Regions from separate parts of the Homo sapiens genome. Here region 2 is linked to region 1. A link means that fine-mapping ties the variant in region 1 to the expression of a gene that starts in the linked region. Tissue or cell type: whole blood. Region 1 holds a variant in brackets; the other region holds the start of a gene. All regions are shown on one strand. Distances are from middle to middle.

Region 1 (8,108 bases):
TTATGCATGAGTGTGTGTGTAGCACAGTTTCAAAACATCCTGATATTATTAGATCAGTTCATCTTGTTACATCTTTTTTTTTTTCTGAAGCATGGATGTGGCATGATGTTCCTCTACTGAAAAACATACATGACTTCTCTTTTTACATCTGAAATTTAAAATATATTTGTTACAGTATTTTGATCTCTGACTCCAACTTCCTCCTCCAGGTTTCTCTCTCCACCACTTTTCAGTTTGTCCAGAGTAGAAAACTCAGAATTCTTTGAATATACCACAGTGCTTCTCCTTACAAAGATATTTCATCCTCATTTTACTTTGAATCCCCTTATTGTCTCTCCAAGTCTTGATTGTCAAAATCCCACCCATGGTCTTTTTAAACTTTGATTTTGGAAATATTTAAATATATAAAGAAGACATACAGTATAACAAACCCTCAGGTACCCTTAAATCCTACCAAAATCAAAGGGCCACTTCAAATACCACTTCGTATGTGAGACCATTTCTCAGTGTTGCTTGTCTTGCTTCTTCTCTCCTGCTTTCAGGGTGCAATGCTTGTATTGCACATCACACATACCCGCTGTTATTATGGAGTTGGGTTTTCATATCTCCTGATGCTTCGATGGCAGAATTGCATCTTAATAAGTTTTGACCCTTGCAATGTGTACCCTGGGGAATGATTGACAATTTCAGCTCAAAGATAGAGATAACACAGTGAGGAGCTAGCTTGGAATTTAATTCTTACTAATCAGAAAGAACTGGTGGGTTGTGGGGGATGTGACAAGAGCCTTGGAGGAAAGTGACGTTGGCAACATAAAGTGAGAAATGGTAAAACAAGACAAACAAACAAACAAACAAACACAAAACAACTTTACATAGACATGTGGTAGACAAGGGCTACTTAACTGTGGCTGATTTCTCAGACACTTGTGAAACTTAAAAAAATATATGGATCCTGAAGCCTCACTCTATCAACTTAGCTGGTAACTACTGTCCCCAGTAGCTGAGAGACCTGGACAAAAGGGCATCAGCAGGGGACCCACCTGCATGGGTCCTTTTGGGGCAGTTTCACCCATAGGGATAGGATTGCAAGTGTGGCTTCAGTGACACAACTACAATGTGAGATTTTAAGACTTTTTAGCACTTAGAGACTCTGTATGGCACCCAGCACGCCTGGAAGCCACACACACACACCTGGAAGCCACACACACACACACACACACACACACACACACACGTGCACGCAGAGAGAGAGAGAAGGGACCACTGAGCCAATGTCTTTATTGGGTACAGGGCGTTATCCAGTTTCCTGCAGGGAGCTTTAATTGCTGGGTTTAAAGCAAGCAGGCACTAGTTCTAGGAGGTCACAGCGTGACTGAGAGGTGGTCACCTTACGTTTGTGGGCAAATGTCTGCATGGTCTGTTTAAAGGGAGTGGCAGGAAAGTAGGGAGGCCAGCCTGCTAGGCAGGAGAGATGTCTCTAAGTTTCATGTCTGGCCACTGGTTTGGAGCCAATCTGGTGGAGTGTGGTATTAGACACCGTGTTAAGAGTGACTGAGCCCTGCTTCTGATGTGAGATAGTTTAACTTAGGTTTAAAAATGGATACTGAGGCAATGTAAAATTATAAGCACTCACTACACTCAGTCCCAGAAATCCTGAGTCTATAGACCTGGAGAAGTTCCCATAGTCAGTGGGCACAAAGAGAGGTAGATTCAAGATTGATGAGATGTTTGAAAAATGTAATTCTAGTGTAAATAACACGAAAGAGGGAGAATGGAGCACGGAATTTGAAGAAATAAGATGCCATCCAGGGAACATTCTGCTTAACTCATATTTTAAAAATGTAAGCGTAAACATGGAAGGGACAAAAGGAAGTATTTATTGAGCACCTATATTATGCTACACCCTGCTAGGCTTCTTCACACACACTGTGTCAATCGAGTCTCTTAATGACCTGCGGAGATTGTACATCATCTCCAGTTTGCAGGTGTGGAAACTCAGTTTAAGATAAGAAACTTTCTCAACATTACGTCACTAAGTGGGACAGCTGGGATTTGAAATGATTCTTATTGATGCAGAGGTTTGTGCAATTTCCATTCCATTCTTGGTTGTTCATTTTGTTTGTTTGTTTTTTGAAGAGCTCTGTACAAATGTTCAAAACAGTTGAGAAAAGAATAACAAACATTCAGTCAACAAATATTTATGATGTGCAGGTGCTGGGCAAAATCATTGGCCATCATGGAACTTATATTCTAGTGGAGAAAGGTAGATAAACAAGTAATAAATAAATGCAGAAGTAAATAAATAAATACAAAAATAAAATAATTCTAGATTGTGAGAAAAGGTTTGCGGGAAATGAGTGGAAGATGGTCGTGGAGATCTATTGTAGAGAGAGTGGACATTTTTCAACTAAAATATCAAAGTTTCAGGGAAGCTGCTTTGAGCTCATATTGTGTTGCAGGCTGAGTGTAAGGTGCCAGAATGTGAAAGCAGGAATGTGTGGATAGTAATCCTTAGATTGTGTTCAGGAAGCTCTGGGAAGGTTCTATGAGGGAGGTTTTGAATTTGGAAGGTTGAGTTCTTGTCTGCAAGACAGCTAGAGCCCTCCAGGTAGAAGGAACAGTATGAGCAAAGGTAAGGTCTTAGGAGATTCATTCTGACTCTGAAATCAAACTGACTGCAGGTTTTAAAATGAGCTTTTCAGCTGGGCACAGTGGCTCACACCTGTAATCCCAGTAACAGCACTTTGGGAGGCTAAGGCGGGCGGATAACCTGAGGTCAGAAGTTTGAGATTAGCCTGGTCAACATGGCGAAACCCCATCTCTACTAAAAATACAAAAATTAGGCGGGTGGGGTGGCACGTGCCTGTATTCCCAGTCGCAGCTACTCGGGAGGCTGAGGGCCATGAGAATTGCTTGAACGTGGGAAGCAGAGGTTTCGGTGAGCCTAGATAGGACCACTGCACTCCAGCCTGGGTGACAAAGTGAGACTCTGTCTCAAAAAAAAAAAAAAAAAAAAAAAAAAAGGCCGGCCATGGTGGCTCACGCCTATAATCCCAGCACTTTGGGAGGCTGAGGCAGGTGGATCACGAGGTCAGGAGTTCAAGACCAGCCTGACCAACATGGTGAAACCCCATCTGTACTAAAAAATACAACAATTAGTTGGGCGTGATGGCGGGCACCTGTAATCCCAGCTACTCAGGAGGCTGAGGCAGGAGAATCACACAAAGCCGGGAGGCGGAGGTTGCAGTGAGCTGACATTGTGCCACTGTACTCCAGGCTGGGTGACAGAGCAAGATTCCATCTCAAAAAAAAAAGAAAAAAAAAAAGAGGTTTTCAGCTTTTCTTCTCTAAACTTTCTGTAATTCCAGAGAGATTTGTCTTCAGTGTTTGGAATCTCAGTGGTATATAAGAGCCAGTGGTTTTGGAAGATTGGAGGATGGCAGAGTCCCTGTTCACTTTTACATTGCTGTTGCAAAGCCAGCTTTCTTCCTGCATGCCTCTTCCCCTGCCCTGCTTCGTTCGTTGCTTTGCATATGATGATTGCAATTTAATAACACTGAATGATACTTCACTGCTGGTTTTATTGCCAACTACCCTTGGAACGTAAGCCTAGATGCAAGTAGTAAGGAGAGGGCAGCCAAGGCCTCTAGATTGCCAGTTACTTGGCTGGAAATCCCATTCATATTGGGAAACAGATTTTTAAAATAAATTTGGCACTGGAAACACTGCCATCCTTTTGTGAAGCTGTGTCAATAATCATAAACTCTCATAGTCGTGCCCCCAACCCTCGGCCAAGCTAACAAATATTTAGGCATCAGCATATCTTCACGATGCCACCTTCTGTTGACCGCGTGGGCTTCTCATGCTGTTTGGGTTGGCAGTGGAACATAATCTTCTGTTTTATGTAATGAGGAACATCAGAGGAGTGCTTTGTGCTTACCCTCTCAGAGTGTGTGCAAGACCTCTCGTGTACCCCATCATTTTCGGTGCAGTCAAAGCTAGCGAACATTTCTGTGGCCTGGTAAATATTTTCTAACTATTGGCAAGGCTTTTTAAATTTTTTTTTCCAGTGCCATTTTGCTCCAGGCCAGGATTATAATGAC[C/T]CAGCTTTGCTTTGGTTTCAGATGAATTTTGCAAATATATGTGTGTGGTGGGATTACACTATTTTCAGAGAACACAGTCATGCGGGTAACAGGGTCTGATGCAATATAGTGCTGCATATGCCCAATCAGGCCGACGAGGCTTACCCTTTGCAGACTGTGCCAATAAGCAGTCGAGGCTTGTTGCGATCTGCAGAAATCTACAGAATTCTCTGTTTCCGAGAAGGCTTGTTGCTAGCATATGACATCATAGAAAGCCTTTTTTTTTTTCTGACATTTTTTCTGCTTTGCTTTAGAATATCAAAGGCAAAGACTGTTGAACATAGTTGGCCACTTAGCTTTATTATTCATAGTGCTCCCTCCCATGTTTTTTTTTTTTTTTTTTTAACAGTGTTCAATGTTAGCGTCAGGTGTTGGCTGCCTTCCTGGGGGAACAGATTGCTGTGAAGTAAACACAGCTGGAAACTGACCACATATTGTTTTTCTTTCTTTTAAGAAATCAAAGAGGCATTTATAGAAAAGCTGCAGAACATGGTACTGTCCAGATTTATAGATTTATTCCTCCAAGTCTGGTTAATGATTAATGTCACGCCTGGGTGTCCACATAGACCCACTTCCCTTCTCCCTTCCTGAAGCTGCAATTTCCTCGGAACAATGAGCTTGCAGAGGTTTGCTGCAATCCGAACTTGAGGAGGGGGTGGAGTCTGTTCAGTTCTGTTTCTCCTTGCCGAAGTGTGGTCTTTGGAGCTAAGTGAAGAATGACTTCTGTTAGGTTTTCCTCTGCTGGTCTTCCTTGCAGCCTCGAAAACCTCACCAGAGTCGCCTCTGCTGGTCTCTTACTGTGCTGCTCTGTCAGAGATGGGCAAGTAAGCGAACTGCAGAGTGTTGCTGTGTGTGCTTGTGATTTGTATTTTATTTGATGTAAACGTGAAGGCAGAGTATTTTCTAACACTGTAATTCAACTAGGTTTTGTGTCTCCTGGATCTATTTTTTTTTCTTGTTGTTCTGAGGAGCTGATATACTTGGAAATATTAGGTTTAAGATATGCAGATGTCCAACTTATATACATAGTCAAGGGTTTAGAGTCTGGAGACAGGAGGCTGGCAATTTCAACTAGGAGGCAGTAAATTCAGGGTAAGAATGATGTTGATGTGGGGGGCTGTGGGGGTGGCTGGGTGTAACAGTGATCTGGGGAGAGAATCAAAGGCCTTCTCCTCCCACTTGGAAGACTTTACTATTATTTTGGTCTTTTATTCCTTTGGTCTCTGTGCTAAAAACTTTCTCTCTTTTTTACTGTTTCTTTGTATAGATGTTTTGGTGATTTAAGTTATGGTGTAATAATTAATTGCTGTTAAGAATTGCTACTAATTACTTGCTATATTAAAGTTTTCCAAAGGGGTTTTCTCAATAAATAGCTATTTCTCTTTACATCTATCTTGTAAGAACTGAGTTAGAGGTAAAGAAGAGAAAGATGTAGGAATTTAAGAGTAACTTCTGCTTTTGGTTTGCTTAAATGACAACTGGAGACCAGTTTTCATAGGCAAAATATATGTTACTTTAGTTTTTGTTTTCGTTGAGAGAACTGTAGGGTCGCCTTTTGGGATTACCTGAATTATCTGTCACCTGCACTGGAATTTGTATGTAGTTATCTGTATAGTTATCTAAACAAGTTGAATCCGTCATTCATTCCTCACTGAAGAATCTCATCGAAAGTAACATTCCCTGTCTGTTTGGCTGAGGTGCATGGATGGGAATTGTTGGAATTAGGCCATATATCTATTTGGATTCTCATAACTGGGTCCAGCACCTAGCATAGTTCCTGGTACATAGGAAAGCTCTATGCGATGTCAATAACTGACTAATTTAGTAACATCCTTAACAGCTGTTTGAGTTCCAAGAGCAGGAAAGTGAATGGTGAGTTTTGAACCTTATAAAATACATAAGTAAACCCAAATGAGGAGAGAATTGAGAAAGCCTCTTATTCTGAAGGTGGTCCTAAAAGGCTTTCTCTAGGCTGATTACTGCGAAGCATATTTTTTCCTGGCTATATACAACTTGGCAGAATTGATCTGATTTTGGATTCTGAAGGAATTGAAAAATTTCATTATACATTATAGTGGGCTATAATGATGTGGCCAGTTCTCTTCATTAATTTTTTAAATGACTTTAAAAAAAATGAGACAGTACTGATTGTTTCCCTAAATGAATCTAATTAACAGCTACTTAAGGTATCTTAATGTTTTTTCATATATGTTATCTGCTTTGATTCTCATATCAGTCCAGTGAGGTGAGTATGGTTGTTACTTCCTCATTTTACAATTGAGAAAACTGAGAGTCAGATGAAAAGTGATTCTAGAAGTTGCGTGATGCGTGGAAGAACCAGATGTCAGCTGGGTATTTTAAAACTCAAAATCCCGGGTACGTCTCACCTGCCCCCTCTCCAGTCATCTCTAAACGTCTTCTATTGCAGGATAGTAGAAAGAACTCCCACCTGGGTGTCAGGAGACCTGGATTCTGATTCTGACTGGGTCATTGCTGACCTCTGTGATGTGGAGCAAGTCACTGAAGTCTTTGGATGTTATTTTTCTGCAAGGAGGTTATTTTAATTGGTTTAAGTTTCTTTGCAGCTTCAGGATCTATCCAGGGCCATATCCAGGGCTTGTGTTATCTCTGAGTGCTCATCTGCAATGTAGAGAAGAGGTGGGAAAGGAGGTAGGATTCTTTTTTTTTCTTTTTTTTTTTGAGACAGAGTCTTGCACTGTCGCCCAGGCTGGAGTGCAGTGGTGTGATCTCAGCTCACTGCAAGCTCCGCCTCCCAGGTTCACGCCATTCTCCTGCCTCAGCCTCCCCTGTAGCTGGGACTACAGGTGCCTGCCACCATGCCCGGCTAATTTATTGTATTTTTAGTAGAGACAGGATTTCACCGTGTCGGCCAGGATGGTCTCCATCTCCTGACCTCGTGATTCGCCCGTCTCGGCCTCCCAAAGTGCTGGGACTACAGGCATGAGCCACCGCGCCTGGGCAGAAGGTAGCATTCTTTCCAGCCATTCTATGCAGCTCTCCCTTGGTTTCCCCTGCCAAGTGCAAAGAGACACAGGATCTCCATGCATGAGGAAAACCCCAGGCCCTTGTTTGCTCTGTTCTGCTTCCTGAGCTGGCATTTCTCAGTCTGTTCTTTTTTACTCATCAACAAAAGTATTCGAGCCAAATTCTCTTGTAATTTCAGCCCAGGTGTGATCAACATCAAGTTACCTTTCCATTTGGCCCAAGAAGAAGTTATAACTTCCTTGCATAAGCTCATCTGTTATCTTAATCCTTTCTGGAACAGGGAAAATGTAAATAAGTATTACTCTATCCCTCTCTTAAGTTTTTCAAATTACAGCAGGTGGTTGGGAAAAGGGGAGGGCAGAACAGTGGAAAAGCATTTTTTATTCTACTTCCATTGCTAACTTTGTAGTAGTTAACAGATCGATTTAGAAAATAGTGGGTTACTAAGATAAGGGTGACCACCCTTTACTAACACTAAAAAGAAAAAAAAAAAGCTATAACCAAGTGTCTGCCATCACCATTATAGTGTAAAAGAAAAAAAAAACAAAAACAAAAAACAAGGCCAGGCATGGTGGCTCATGCCTGTAATCCCAGCACTTTGGGAGACCAAGGTCAGCGGATCACCTGAGGTCAGGAGTTCGAGACCAGCCTGGCCAACAGGGAGAAACCCCCATCTCTACTAAAAATATAAAAATTAGCCGGGCATGGTGGTGCATGCCTGTAATCCCAGCTCCTCAGGAGGCTGAGGTAGGAGAATCGCTTGAATCCAGGAGGCAGAAGTTGCAGTGGGCTGAGATTGTGCCACTGTACTCCAGCCTGGGTGACAGAGTGAGACTCTGTCTCAAAAAAAAAAAAAAAAAAAAAAGTTGCAATGACAAATTCTCAGTGGGGAGAAAGGGCAGATCTTCCTAGGAAAAGAGAGTTGGCATTCTCATCCTGATGTTTGCCCCCTGGACTAAT
Region 2 (8,108 bases), 87 kb before region 1:
GATCACTTGAGGTCAGGAGTTAAAGACCAGCCTGGCCAACATGGTGAAACCCTTTCTCTACTAAAAATACAAAAATTAGCTGGATGTGGTGGTGCACACCTGTAATCCCAGCTACTCAGGAGGTTGAGGCAGGAGAATTGCTTGAACCTGGGAGGTGGAGGTTGCAGTGAGCAAAGATCATGCCATTGCAACAGAGCAAGACTGTCTCAAAAAAAAAAAAAAAAAAAAAGAGAGAGAGAGCGAGCATGAGAGCATGTACCTAATGGCAAGGAGTGAGAAAAGCTGCCTTCTCCTGACTCTAATGTCAACATACGATGAGAAATGAAGCTGGAGATAAAGCAGGGCCCAGGTCTTGAGGAACCAATTATACCATGCCATGGAGTTTGGAATAGATCCTGAGTATATTTAGAAACTGAGAGGAGAGTGCATCTGACTTGCATTTTAGAAAGATCTGAAGTACAGAAAATTACAAAGATTGGTGCCTGTAATCCCAGCACTTTTGGAGGCTGAGGCAGAAGGATTGCTTGAAGCCAGGACTTTGAGACCAGCCTGGGCAACGCAGCAACTCTGTCTCTACAATAAAAAATAACAAAAATTAGCTGGGCATGGTAGCTCACGCTTGCAGTCCCAGCTACTTGGGAGACTGAGGTGGGAGGATCTCTTGAGCCCAGGAGTTTGAGGCTACAGTGACCTATATGATCAGGCCACTGCACTCCAGCTTGGAAGACAAAGCAAGACCCTTGTCCCTAAAAACAAACAAACAAACATAGCTGGGCTTGGTGGCATGCACCTATAATCCCTGCTACTCTGGAGGTTGAGGTGGGAGAATCTGGGAGGTGGAGGCTGCAGTGAGCTGAGATCATGACACTGCACTCCAGGCTGGGCGACAGAGTGAGACTCTGTCTCAAAAAATTAAAAAAAAAAATAAAAACAAACAAACAATTAAAAAGATGGGGGAGGCCAGGCGCGGTGGTTCACGTCTGTAATCCCAACACTTTGCAAAGCCAAGGTGGGTGGATCACTTGGGGTCAGGAGTTTGAGACCCCCTGACCAACACGGTGAAACACTGTCTCTATTACAAATGCAAAAATTAGCTGGGTGTTGTGGTGAGCTCCTGTAACATCAGCCATTCGGGAGGCTAAGGCAGGAGAATCGCTTGAACCTGAGGGGTGGAGGTTGCAGGGAGCCGAGATTGCGCCACTGCACTACAGCCTGGGTGACAGAGCGAGGACTCATCTCAAAAAAAAAAAAAAAAAAAAAAAAAAAAAAGATGGGGGATTTAAAACAGAAGCATGGGCCACCTGAAGATGAACACTTGATGTGCATATAAAAGGAGACACCTGCCAGAATTCACTCCTGCCTTCTTACGCCACAATGGGGAGGATTCTCCTCCTAGTACCAATGATACCACGAAGACTGGCAGGAAGAAGAGCACAGGTACCTCCTCTTCCACCACCCACGTATGTGGGAGAGGAAACTTTTGAACACCAAGGCAGGAAGAAGAACTTTTTCTTCTGGGAACCAAGACTTCACAGAGAGGTTGAGTTCCCTGTCATCCCAATTTCCTACTTGAAATTCAGGATACATTTTTCCCAGAAAGAAATATGATACAAAATTTTGCTATTTTTAAACGGATGATTCAGCCAATTTATGGATGAGAGGTGTTTTGTGTATGCATGTGTGCTTGTGTGTGTATATTAGCTGCTGAACATATTGTTGGTGCTATGGGAAAATGAATTGCAGATTGACTTTCAAGCTACAATCCATTTGCCAGCTGTGGACTCCGCACGCCTATGCAGAGAAAGTAAGAGCAGTAATGACAGTGGCAAAATGCACCAGACAAGTTGTGATTAGAACTCTTCCATAAAGAAGGGAGTCTGGGGCTACTTAAGAGCAATGCAGCTGACCACATAAAATGCAAATTGAAGCAAGCTCTAGGTGGCTGTTCAGGCCCTGCCTGGGCTAAGCCAGTTTACAGAAAGCTCCAGCAGCTATCCCAGGGCCTGGCTCCATCAGTGTTTGGGAAAGTGAACTAGATTTTCACACGTGTCTCCTGGTTAAATGAGACTTAGGAAACCATGCTGGTTTGAGGGGGTGCTGAGCTTGTGTGTATACGATAGGAGGGAAGGGACAACATGGATTAGCCTAGAAGGACAATAAAAGAGTTAGAAAGTCCTTGCACCTGTGTTCACAGACCAGCAATGCCTTCCTCTTAGGGGCAGAAGCTAATATGGAGATTAGATTGCCTTCACTAATTGTCAAGAATGTCAGTAAAGGGGACCAACTTAAGTAAATTAATGTTAGTCTCACAACCTATTGCATATTTAAGATTTGATTTGCTGGTTTGCAGCTGAAATAAGACGGCTTCCTTCCCTCTAATGCATCCCTTATGCAGATGGTCCTGGCTTCCAGCATCCTAAATACAATTCCAATAGTTTTCATTAGTAATCATCAAATCTAGCTGAATCTTCTTTCAAAGTGCCTCTTTTTGCCTTTCACTACTGACCTAACCTATCTCTAGCCTCTCCCAGTTCCAACCCACCTTGATTGCTGAGGGCAAATTTACTTTCTTAAAACAATGCTTGGATTAAGTTACGCCCCTTTGCAAGACCCTTTCACCTCCCCGCAAGTACCTGCAGAATAAAGTCCAAACCTCTAGCCCACCTTTTAAGGCCCTGTGGAGTCCTCACCTGTAAATCTCCCCCGCCCTCACCACTCCTGCACACAAGGCAACAAGGTCTCCTTGGCAGCTTCTGAGTAAGGTTGTCCTTATTTCTGCCACAGTGCTTTGTCCACACCTCCTTGAATTCCTCAATTCCTCCCTCTGTCTTAAAAGAACATTTCTGAGTCTGTCTGCTCCATGAAGTATAAGTCCGAGCTCATTTTTGCCCATGCCCTGCTCACTCCTCTCCATTCCTTGCAGTGAATTGTGCTAAGCATCTCTGGCTTCCTTGTGAAAAAGGTGATGCCGTTCTCCATCAGGGTGCTGTGTACCCACTATGTGTGAGCGGTACAGAATGAATGAACATCCCAGGGCCCTAGAAAGGCGCCTGGCACATCCTGGACACTCAACAAGTATCTTTTAATTTTAATGAATAAATTCAAGATATTCGACTGTATTCATTTTCCACCCACTTTCCCCCTAGGCCAGGGACTCTCCTCCCAGGTGAGAAAAAATCATCTAGATACCTTAATTTTGATAAAGTTAGCGTTGATGTATAAAAAGCAGAACTTCCTCTGTAACCCTGTGAGAAATGAGAAGCCTCCAATCTTCTTCCCCACACCTACCCCCTACTGAGTTTCGGGTTCCTTGGAAATAACTGACCTGGATTGTTTCTGACAAAATAAAACTTTGCATCTTCTCCACAGAGCAAAGGTAACCTTACCTCCAGCCAACCCAATCATCCATACATTTTTCTTACTAGAAAAAATGTTTTTAAAAATGGAGGTGTGGCCGGGCGCGGTGGCTCACGCCTGTAATCCCAGCACTTTGGGAGGCCGAGGTGGGCGGATCATAAGGTCAGGAGTTCGAGACCAGCCTGGCTAAATGTTGACACCCCGTCTCTACTAAAAATTAGCCGGGCGTGGTGGCGCATACCTGTAATCCCAGCTACTTGGGAGGCTAAGGCAGGAGAATTGCTTGAACCCGGGAGGCGGAGGTTGCAGTGAGCAGAGATCGCGCCACTGCACTCCAGCCTGGGCGACAGAGCGAGACTCCCTCTCGGGAAAAAAACAACAACAACAACAACAAAAAAACCCCCAAACAAACAAAAAACGGAGGTGTGAGGGTAAAACGTCTACAGGCAAGAACAGCACAACAGGTGCTGAGCTGCAAAATCAACACACTAAACTCCCAAACAGACCTTCTCGACAAGCCAAAAGCTCTTTAGCTAACCTAATATTCTTTAGCTGTTGTTTCAGAGGCTTTTCGAGAACAAAACTGCCGCCCCGTCTTGGCCTTGCCGCTTTTCACCCATCACTCTACTGAGTGTGTGTCTGACTTGTTTATCTGGACGCAATCTTTGTCGCACCCAGTTATCTCGCTCAGCGACCGGGGCGACCACGTTTCCTTAAATCAGAGCCCCGTGGACTCCGCCGGAGAACTACATTACCCAGCGGCCTTCGCGCCCTTCGCAGGAAGGACGTCTGCGCACTAAGATACTCAGTTCCAAGTTTGGAGCTTTTAGCTGCCAGCCCTGGCCCATCATGTAGCTGCAGCACAGCCTTCCCTAACGTTGCAACTGGGGGAAAAATCACTTTCCAGTCTGTTTTGCAAGGTGTGCATTTCCATCTTGATTCCCTGAAAGTCCATCTGCTGCATCGGTCAAGAGAAACTCCACTTGCATGAAGATTGCACGCCTGCAGCTTGCATCTTTGTTGCAAAACTAGCTACAGAAGAGAAGCAAGGCAAAGTCTTTTGTGCTCCCCTCCCCCATCAAAGGAAAGGGGAAAATGTCTCAGTCGAAAGGTAAGAGGCTGTTTGCATTAGTTGCAAAAATGCAAAGGGTTGTGCATGCATTTATGAATGCATGGATGCAATTTTCGCCTGGCGAGTGCATTTTTAAGTTTGAGGTTTTCCACAGCTCAGTTGCATTTCCTGTTTAGTATGTGTCTTTTTTTGCAGACACAGAGAGTTCCTGTAAGGCAGGGCTTGCAGTTCAGCTGTGCATTGACGTTATTTGCATTCTTCTGCTAGGATTACTGAGCTCTTTTTGCCTTTTGCACAGTCAGGAGAGACAGAGCAGGTTGGTAGCGTCTAAATGTGCAAGGCTTTATATAATTGTAAAATTCTTTACTATGCACAGATATTGTAAGTAATTTTGTATGCAACAGGAATAGAAACTTTTAAAAACTCTATAGGTGAAGATGAAAGGTAAAACTTGAGTTAAACTACTAGGAAATTAATGTAATCTTATATTCTTTGGGGGAAATAGACCGTTGCGGTGCCAGTATTTAGCTAAATTTCCATTGATATCGCCTTGAACATTAGGTAACTTTTGATTTTTAAAGGAAGTAAAGGTGAAGGGTGAATAACAGCATATCACAAAAAAGCAGACGAGTCTTGCTCTTCTGAGATTTTGCACTTTACACCAATTGCTTATTGGCTCGCAAAATTTAGAAGCAGCAGTGAAGACCTAATGTTTTATGTCTGCCCATTTGGGGGATGCTTTGCATCTTGGGGGAAAATATTGGGGGTAAAACTGTACTTTTAAGCATTACAGTAGTGTGAAGGGACTGCACTGTTTCATTGACAAGCATAATGAAATATTTTAAGTGTGTAACTGCGTGTATTTAGTCAGCTGTAATAGGTTGGAAGTTCACGTTATGGTTGTTTTCTTTATGTTCTTTTATTTTCTTTTCTTAATTTTTGTTTTTAAACACAGTTGTATTTTGCAGGCTTAATGTCACCCTGGGAAGGGGATTTAAAAAATTCCTGATATGACATCAAAGAGCAGACTAGGTGCTGTCAGGTGCCCCTGGGACCCCAAGTCACTTGTTTCAGAACAATTGTTTCTTTACCATAGAGAAAGCATATGCCATATGAGAAGTATGGGATGATGAAGAGAGGTGTTAGATACTATTGAATTAGGCTACCCGGGGCACTCTTTGAGTAAGACATGGTGAAATTAAAGGGTCTAACAAGCTTTTTGCTACTTTTTTGGGAGGGAGTGTGGGGAGTTGTTGCACCGCTTTTTAATTCTACCTGATGGGAGTCATATATCTCAGCAGCCCAAGAAGGAAGTAGTAATCTCAAGCATTCAAAGTAGCACTCTGCTTTTCTTTGAGTATTAGGGGAGAATGGAAATCTGAAAAGTTAAGAGTGCTGAAGAACCTAGGAATTGACATATCAGGTGGAGATGTTCCTCAAGTGGGGAAAACCTAAAAATCTCCTTATTGAGTAGAGAAATAATAGTTCAGAAGAGGCAGTCCATGCTTTGATGTATTAAAGAGATGGCATTTAGTTACTTTGTATTTGGTAAACATTCGCTCATTCATTCAATTCAGTTTAATATATGTGTAATATATTGTGATATGCATGTATATACATATGTATGTGTGTATATATATGCATGTATATGTATGTATTGTGTGTGTATGTGTGCACATGATTTAGGGACACACAAAAATATTTAAAATGAAGTTTTTCCTTCGGGTTGGTGAAAACAAGAATGTAAGGAAATCATTATAATACAAGATAATAGGACAGGTATTGAAGAGAAATGGTGCTATTGGAGTTTAAAAATGGAAGTGATTTATCTATTTGGGGGATAGTCAGGAAGGTTTATGAAGAGGGTGGTGTTTACTGTGATCTTATCTTTGGACTTTAGGGTCTAAACTAAATCAGGCTCCTTTTTGCATATTTTTGGGCTCACTATGAACGTGGCTCCCTCTTAGTAGAGCCAGTTTTTGAGTTGAGAAGCCAAAGGAGATATTAGCACTGCACTCTTCCCTATGGATGTGTTTACAATGGATCAGGTACTGGTGGTCCTTCAAATCAATTCCCATTTACCCAGATGAGTTTTCTTAATTGGATTCTGCTTGGAAAGTACATCTGGAATGAACATGGGGTTCTTGTCCGAAAGGAAAATTATTGGTAGAAAGAAGTGGGTGATCATTTTAGAAATGGCAAAAGAGCCAGCCGCCTTGGCCTGGACTTTAAATGTGGAATTGGCCTTATTCAGCTACGCTATTCTCAAATGGCCAAAATACTTTTTGCAGTACCAAACTTCTTTTTTAATATTCTAACCCAAGAAATGGGAGGAAAAGTGAAAAGTGGATACAATCTCATAGTATTGAAGAATTTAACAATATGTTCAATTCAAGGACCTTTACGAACTTTCTAGATCACTATAATTCGGTTTAACAGACCTCTAATTTAAGGCACAGCAGAGGCAAAGGAATTACAGACTCTCTGGAAGCTGGAAGGACTGGGTTACTGCTCTACAGCCTTACCAACAGTGAGATTCCGAGAAAGAATTTCTTAAAAAGAAATTTTGTTTTCCACAGTTGTAACTTTAGGTGGTATGCTTTTCAGCTTGTTTATATTAGCTGTCTGGGGTTGAGTTGACATTTTTCAAATATTAAAGCAGTAGAATGCCTTTTGAGGAAATCTGAAATGTAAGTTAACAGGAAGGGCACCCAGAAAGTGCAGGAATTCCTGCACACTACAGGAAGACAAGCTACAGGAAAAATGTGTCATCTACACTACCCGGGAGAGAAAAACTATTGTTATCAGCCATAATGATCTCCGGAGGGAGGGAGAGAAAGAGGGAGGTAGGGAGATCTGGCATCCCCCAGTTCACCTGAAAATACACAAAAAGTTTGACCCTGTTAAAATACACTTTTCTCACTTCTCCTCCTATTCACCTTTAAAAAATATTAGTTTATTTTAGTTTTAGAGAGCAATAAGTAAATCATGTAAGAAATGCCTATGAGGCACAATTCAGAAGCATATAGCAGAGTGGTAGGAAAGGTCTTAACTCTACTGGGGTTCTTTGCTTCTGTAATTCATTCCACCCTTGGGAAATGAAATGTGTAAATTTCTTGTTCTCTATAAATTCCTTTGTTAGGTTGTACCAGACGGACTTGTCATGCTTAGCCTGTAATCTGAGCCAGTATGTTTTATAACCCCGTACATCTCAGGACACAAAATCAGAATAGGTAGCTTGGGTTTCCTGAGCTTGCTTTGTATTAGCATTGCATTCAGTTCTTTAGAGCATGCGGCCTGTTAACTGTAGGGGGCTTCAGGGGTCTCTGGTTGGTAAATTTAATGTTGGAGAAAAGAGTTGAGATTCTCTTGTCTTTGTTTTTCAGATTAGTGTTACTTTAATGACTCCCCAGTATTTTAAAATCTGAAAGATCTACAAGGAATATTTTTAAAACTTAAAAGAAATTTCATAAATAACCCTTGTTCATTATAGAAACATTTCATAGAAAAGGAAAAATAAGAATGACTAGTTACTGCAGTCTACACTTTGGCATTTATTCTCTTGGACTTTTTTTTTCTATCTATGTGTATGAAGCATCCAAAATGTGTGTAAAACTAAGTCTATTTCGTTCCCTCTTGTTTCACTTACCAATATATGGCAAAATATTCCCAAGTTTAT

Evidence for each region. PIP is the estimated chance that this variant, and not a neighbour inherited with it, causes the effect.
Region 2: MAP2K6 starts here. The variant in region 1 is fine-mapped to the expression of MAP2K6 in whole blood (TOPMed, PIP 0.98).

What each region holds. Positions count from the first base shown.
Region 1 is chr17:69,497,452-69,505,559 of GRCh38, forward strand. The region is part of intron 1 of MAP2K6 (mitogen-activated protein kinase kinase 6); the gene reads left to right. Among named protein-coding and RNA genes, the nearest start is that of MAP2K6-AS1, 16 kb to the left of the region's middle. RefSeq lists enhancers at 6,512-6,561, 6,632-6,691. The variant C/T (reference allele first, on the strand shown) is at 4,104.
Region 2 is chr17:69,410,533-69,418,640 of GRCh38, forward strand. It overlaps MAP2K6 (mitogen-activated protein kinase kinase 6), which reads left to right and starts at 4,165. Exons shown (of 12, transcript NM_002758.4): 1 at 4,165-4,468. The coding sequence starts at 4,453.